Linked DNA regions of Homo sapiens. The protein of the gene in region 2 interacts with the protein of the main gene of each other region in a pairwise test. Each region holds a gene or a part of one and is shown on either strand. Other genes may lie near its edges.

What was found. Proteins that work in one complex are often made in the same cells at the same time.
Region 1: the proteins of DLC1 (region 2) and RASA1 interact in binary tests that used the Homo sapiens proteins (3 or more experiments, as listed by UniProt).

What each region holds. Positions count from the first base shown.
Region 1 is NC_000005.10:87,379,266-87,382,922, forward strand, and holds part of RASA1 (ras GTPase-activating protein 1), read left to right. Parts: intron 1-469; coding exon 470-585; intron 586-1,243; coding exon 1,244-1,330; intron 1,331-3,657. UniProt on the Homo sapiens protein: Inhibitory regulator of the Ras-cyclic AMP pathway. Stimulates the GTPase of normal but not oncogenic Ras p21; this stimulation may be further increased in the presence of NCK1.
Region 2 is NC_000008.11:13,102,323-13,105,979, forward strand, and holds part of DLC1 (rho GTPase-activating protein 7), read right to left. Parts: intron 532-3,657; coding exon 468-531; intron 1-467. UniProt on the Homo sapiens protein: Functions as a GTPase-activating protein for the small GTPases RHOA, RHOB, RHOC and CDC42, terminating their downstream signaling.

The DNA.
Region 1 (3,657 bases), on a different chromosome or scaffold from region 2:
AGAAGTGCAGCAGGTAGGTAGGGAGTCTCTGGACTTTAGAGATAGGCTACGGAATTCCGACTTCCATAGATAAATGTACTCTGCTGACACTAGATCAGAAGGGTTACAGGAAAAGTTCTGAGAAAGGTTTGTGATTCTGCCTAAGGCATTTGATATTTTTATTAGCCATTAAATAAGCCTCATTCAGAAAAGCTTTTAATCAGCTTTTTTTCCCCTCAAATAAATAGAATTGACTAAGCACTGTTTGCTTTTCAGTTGGCTAATTGGGAATAAATGGTAACAGACCTACCAGGAGGAGTTCCATAGAGAAAACTACTTAAAAACTCCCATTATACAAAGAAAAAAGATCAATACACACAGAGATACCGAAAAATAGACAACCTCGAAAACTATAACTACTTGTTTTCCTCTATTCATTTGCATTTGTCATTGCCAACATGCATTTATATTGATTTATTCCTTCTTTTAGTTAAGTCCATCAAAGTTAGAAAAAAATGAAGATGTGAACACTAATTTAACACACCTATTGAACATACTTTCAGAGCTTGTGGAGAAAATATTCATGGCTTCAGAAATACTTCCACCGTAAGTGGTGAAATTTTCATTTGACAAGAAATTGTGTATCTATGTCTTCAGAAATTTCTATTTCTAAAACGTGAAAGCTTTTCTGTTGTCCTAATATTATTATACTCTGAAAAAGTCATGGTTAATCTTTATGAGATGAATTGTATTTAAAGAAAATAGCTGTCTTAATAAAACCACCCATTATTTTCGTACAAGCCAATATGTCTGGTTTGTACTGTAGTAGCTTGGGGAGTGAATAGAGGTTTATAGTTTCAGATTTGAGATTGTAAAAGATATCTTGTCTATCCATTTAGTCTATACTTGATAGACTAATCACTCTGTTAATATGCTTGTCGGCCTCCAGTATTAGTGAACTCACTTGTTCAGGTAGAAGTTAACTTAAGTCTAAATCTTGCTCCCCAGAATTTGCAGCTGGTTGGTTCTCTATATCTGAAAGTAAATGTCAGGAAGTTGACTGAATAAATTGATGATAAACTTAGTGGATAAAGTTTTCCTTACCCCTTGCTAAATGCCTCATTACCTGTGGCAAAATACTTTTTTGGGTAAAAGGCCAGTTTTATTGAACTGTGGTATATTTGGGTAAATTAAGCTTTTGGCTGCTAGGAGATCAGTGTTTTCACTTGCTTTCTGTGTTGAGATGATTGTGTTATTTTGGCAGGACATTGAGATATATTTATGGGTGTTTACAGAAATCTGTTCAGCATAAGTGGCCTACAAATACCACCATGAGAACAAGAGTTGTTAGGTAAGGCTCATCAATTGATTTGTTAAATCACATACTAATAGGTGGATAATTGTGAAAAATTGAGGAATAACAATATACAATTCAATGCTTTTTTCTTTGGCTTTTATGTCAAAGCCCTGTTGCATATTTTCTAAGTCCAGATGGCTCCTAAACTGAAAGTTACTGTGAGATTTAGCTGCCGTTTGCATTTTCTAAAAACATGAACATTCATTTATAGTCAAGTATTGGGGATTTTTAAACCCTTACAAGATGAGGCTAAAAGTTATATAACAAAATCTGTAGCTAACTTCATATAGTATTCTTCATACATACACACACATTGATTGGCAGTGAGAGAGAAGGGCAGTAATTGACCGATTTAGATATTAATTGGTTTGTTACAATCTGTGACTCTGAGCTAATCAGAACCAGAACATGTAGTTCTGAAGCTGTGTTTCAGTCTGCTCATTGTACCATAATTAGGAAGAACTGCTTTGGCAAATCATGGAATTTGGGAGCTTATATAAAGGGACTTCATTATCATTATTCTATAGGAAGAACTGCTTTGGCAAATCATGGAATTTGGGAGCTTACGTAAGGTTACTTCATTATCATTATTCTAACTTATTTTTCCAATGAAGAAGCAGATCTGTCTGGAGAGGTTAAGTTGAACTAAGGTTTTATAGAAAGCTGGTGGCTAAGGCAGAACTAAAGGTAACTTTCTAAGACCCAATCTGATATCCTTGAGTCTTATTGTAGGCTTTTGCTTTTGTTAAGCATACTCCAACTAATACCCCAACTAATTCCAGGCAAATGGAAGTTTAATGCGAAAGCGTCATGGAATACAGCAGTTTTCTAATAATATAATTTGTTATTTAGAATATACACTGTCATGTCATGCTATATGTAAAATAATTAGGCAACCATTAACACCATTATTACACAGTTTGTTTTGAAAATGTGTTAATCCTGCCTCCAACCTAAATTTTGTCAAGGGGCTTCTATTTCTTTTTTTGGGGGGCAGGTAATATTTCTCTTGGTTATGATATGACATAATATTTAAGAACTACAGATTCTGTTTTTCTTGGCATTAGTGGTGATTGGGAGGAATAGAAAAGAATTACAAGCATAATATTCCAGCACAGTTACGTGTGAGATGTAAATTAAAACTGTTCTATAAATTTGTAAGTTTCAAACAAGTATAACTGTTAAGCAAACACAGCAGGAAATTGTAAACTGTTTCGTGCAAGAGGGTGTTTTAGGGCATTTTTGCCAAGGTTAGGTTTCAGGCTCATAGACCTACTATGTATAATTATCACAATATTTTCAAGTAAAGTTTACAAGATTCTTTAAATTTGGGAAGTCCAAAATTAAAGACTTAATTGTTATTTTTTTGAGACAGGGTCTTGCTCTGTTGCCCATGCTGGAGTGCAGTGGTGTGATTTCGGCTTACTGCAACCCCCGCCTCCCAGGTTCAAGTGAGATTCTTGTGCTTCATCCACCCAAGTAGCTGGATTACAGGCATGCACCACCATACCTGGCTATTTTTGTATTTTTAGTAGAGATGGGGTTAGACCATGTTGGCCAGGCTGGTCTTGAACTCCTGGCCTCAGGTGGTACACCCACCTCGGCCTCCCAAAGTGTTGGATTACAGGCATGAGCCACCATGCCCAGCCAATATATTAGAATTTCTATAAATGCTGTTTGAGAAGTAACATCTTTACTTTCTAAGAGTCCAAAAATTAGCAAACAGGTACATGTTCAAAGGTAAATGCTAAGAAATTGGGTAATCCACTCTAACAGAGAACAGAGATTGTATCTATTAATCTATAGAAGGAATTGCGTAACTCATTATTTTGGGAATAATGCTTGTCTTTACATGGATTATGTCTATCAATCTGTAGAAGGAATTGCATAATTCATTATTTTAGGAATAATGCTTGTCTTTACATGGGGCAAGTAAGAGGTTAATTATTAGTGTGGATTCTTCTTAAAAGGAAATTAGAAATTATCTACATGACAACATATCCTCCCTACCAGTGACTAAAGGAGGCAGAATAGGAGTATCTATGCAAGCTTTTAACACTGACATTGTCCCAAAGTAAAATTAGCAGATAAAATCATATATGACAGCTGTTAGTATAATTTTTGCTTTTGCTATTGTTTTATAATTTGACAACTTTTTAAAACTTTAGAATTCCTAATGTCTTGTCTTAAAAGTTTTTCAGGCTGGGCATGGTGGCTCAAGCCTGTAATCTCAACATGTTTAGACCAAGACAGGAGGATTGCTTGAGGCCAGGAATTTGAAATTGTCCTGGGCACCGTAGCGAGACTCTGCTTTCTACAAA
Region 2 (3,657 bases):
CCAATTCCTTTCCTCCCTCCAAATCTCTTATTATTCTTCAATATTGCACAAATCGGCCTTCGCTTTCATCTCTACAGCTTTGAAGCACAGTTATTGTTATATTTGGGAAGACAGAAGAGTTGGAAATAAACCTCAGTTTATTTCCTCTATGAGCAATGCAAAAATCCACTGGGATTCCTTAAGCATGATCCCTTTATTATGTAATAGGCATTGAGTTAGTAATTAGGCAAAATAATAGCTGATGTGATCAGGTCAAAAACAATAGATAAAATAATGTAATGGACTAGTTGCAACTATTGGCTTCAACTACATAAGGCTATCAAGTCTAGGCGATATCATTCAAGATGTAGATGCTTACGGAACAACAAACTAAGAGTTGGAGAAACAAAACCTATTACAAAACACATCATTCACTTTTTTGTTTGCCCCTTTTCCCCCTCATTCTATTATGCAATTTGTATACTCACTCGTTTCCGATGAGGACTAATTTCTAGCTTCATCACCGCACATTTGTTTAAAGTATTTAGACGCCTATAGAGCAAAGAAATAACGTTAGCAAAGATAGGCAACCACTCTCTAATGAGTGGATAAACACCTGTTTTTAAACAATTCATATATTTAAGGAGTTTCTTGAAACTCAGTAATACCTAATACCTAGAGGAGTATTAGAAACTTATTTAAAAAGTGAGTCATTTAAAAATACCTTGGCCGGGCGTGGTGGCTCACGCCTGTAATCCCAGCACTTTGGGAGGCCTAGGCGGGTGGATCACGAGGTCAGGAGAGCGAGACCATCCTGGCTAACACGGTGAAACCCCGTCTCTACTAAAAATACAAAAAAACAAGCCGGGCCTGGTGGTGGGCGCCTGTAGTCCCAGCTACTCAGGAGGCTGAGGCAGGAGAATGGCGTGAACCCGGGAGGCGGAGATTGCAGTGAGCCAAGATAGCGCCACTGCACTCCAGCCTGGGCGACAGAGTGAGACTCCTTCTCAAAATAAATAAATAAATAAATAAATAAATAAATAAATAAATAAATAAATACCTTTATGTTTTGTAAGTTTTTCACTTTAATTTTTATATTTTAGTGTGAAATGGCACACAGCTATGATACTGTCAAGTCTCTCTGATTCTTCAACTCTCAATGAGTTGTTCTTACTAAGAAAAATCATTCTTCCAATAACTCTTAGGTTGAGCCATTATGGACTGCCGCACATGGAGCCAAGAAAGAAAAGTTTGTGACTCGGCACGGTGGCTCATGCCTGTAATCCCAGCACTTTGGGAGGCCGAGGCAGGCAGATCACCTGAAGTCAGGAGTTTGAGACCAGCCTGTCCAACATGGCGAAACCCCAACTCTACTAAAAATGCAAAAATTAGCTGGGCATGGTCGTGGGTGCCTGTAATGCCAGCTACTCGGGAGGCTGTGGCAGGAAGAATCGCTTGAACCTGGGAGGTGAAGGTTGTAGTGAGCTGAGATTGTGCCACTGCACTCCAGCCTGGGCAAAAGAGCCAGACTCCATCTCAAAAAAAAAAAAAAAAAAAAGAAAGAAAGAAAAGAAAAGTTTGTGATGTCTCCTTTCATAGAAATAGAAACAGCAAAACAGCAACAAAGAACCAAGTAGAGTTTTTGGCAAAATAAACAGTGTCTTGTATTTGAAATCAAAACTCAAATTTAAAAAATTAGTTTTAGTTATCTCCGATGAATCATAATCTTGGACAGCCTGTCTAAAATTTTAGAGTCCTTGCACAGAATGGAAATTGAAGCCCTCTTTAATATCCAATATTTAGAACAGCTTCCTGTTATAGGACAATATAATGTGTGCTATAGTCACGGCAAATGATCATTTAAAGAATTTGCGTACTGTAACTTCAAGGATCCAAATCTTACCGGGTTCAAAATTAAGCACTCAGGTAAGACTCTTTTTGCAACAGCCATCCTATTGTCATTTTGATACCAATACTTTCACCTCTGCCAAACAGCAATATCAATTTAAAATTAGGGAAATTTAGTTTCGTTGAAAATAAAATACTTACAAAAAAAAAAAAAACCCAAAACCTCATGGAGAAATAATGCAACAGTTGAAAAAAGAAACACTTTAAATATGCTGAACTAAACGGTATGTACAACTATGAATGACAGCCCTTCAAGGCCCCAATTTTCCTGCCATCTCCCAGATGATCATCACTTAGTCTTCCTCAAATGAACCTGTAATGTGTCTGTTTGCCATCTGCTATCACCAGTTTTCTAGTTTTTCCTACGAATTGCAATTCTACATTTTCATAAGATCAGATCATTTAATTCACACAAATTCCTGGGAACCGTGAGACCTCCTCAGGGCTTTATCTTCCTGATCCTGTTCTTGCTGTTTGCCTAACAATGTTGATGCAACAGAATAGAAAGCATTTTTGCCTGCCTGATAAGCCCGATTTTGCCTTCATACCTTAGGTGGTAGCCTGTTTATAGAATAAATAAAGATAGCCCAGAGCGCCTAGGTTCAGAAAAGTTCTCTCTGTTGATGGGGAAGAAAAGAAAACAAATAACTAAGAAAAAGTCTGCACACTTTAAAATGAGTGGATATAAGGTCCCTCTATTGGGGGTATCAATTACTTAAATGACTTACACCCACAGTGTTTTAGTTCTCAAATGCTTTCAAGATTTAAAGAATCCGGAATGGTTACAGTTAGTCTTAGGTCTGGGTTCCATTAATCAAACCTGTAATCAAATAGTCACTTGACTTCATTTGGGCTTTAATGGTTGAATGGTGTTTATAACCAAATTTACTAGCCAGAGGCCTATGGGGCTGGAGAGGGGTTTAGCCTCACAAACTCCAGATTTTAGTCAAACTAAAAAGACCCAGGAGGCCAGTTCTATAAAGGTCAACATTACCTTTTTATGTTGGTAGCACCCAGCTAATGGCATTACAGACCTAAAGCCCAGAGTTATACCCTAGGGTTTCTGTGGTTTTCATTTGTCCTGGAGGACCCCCAAAGAATGTACTCTGCTGGGACCTTATTTCCTTACAGAGACAGTACTGATATCAAATCATAGTTCCAGCTACACAAACGAGGCCTACTGCGGGCCAGGCACTATGCTAGGCACTTCCTATATATGACTTCATCTTCCCAACGACCCTATGGTACAGATATTATGATTAACCTAGATTTTACAGATGAGGAAATGGGGCTCAGGGAGGTCACAGATCTTGTCTAAGTCCACACGATTAAAACATGGTGGCTCTCAAACCCAGTAACTTCTAGGTTCCTTTCTTTTTCTTCTTTTTTTTTTTTTTTGGAGACAGTCTTGCTCTATTGCCCAGGCTGGAGTGCAGTGGCTCACTGCAACCTCCGCCTCCCCGTTTCAAGCAATTCTCATGCCTCAGCCTCCTGAGCAGCTGGGACTACAGGTGCCCGCCACCAGGCCCAGCTAATTTTTTGTATTTTTAGTAGAAGTGGGGGTTTGCCATGTTGCCCGGCTGGTCTCGACCTCCTGAGCTCAGGCAATCCGCTCATCTCGGCCTCCCAAAGTGCTAGGATCACAGGCATGAGCCACTGCACCCGGCAATCTGTGTTCCTTTCTAATATAAATATTAATGGTAGTAATAAATGAAAGCAACTTATATCCTAAGGGATTCCTCACACAGTGGCTGATATGCTGGGCGTAAC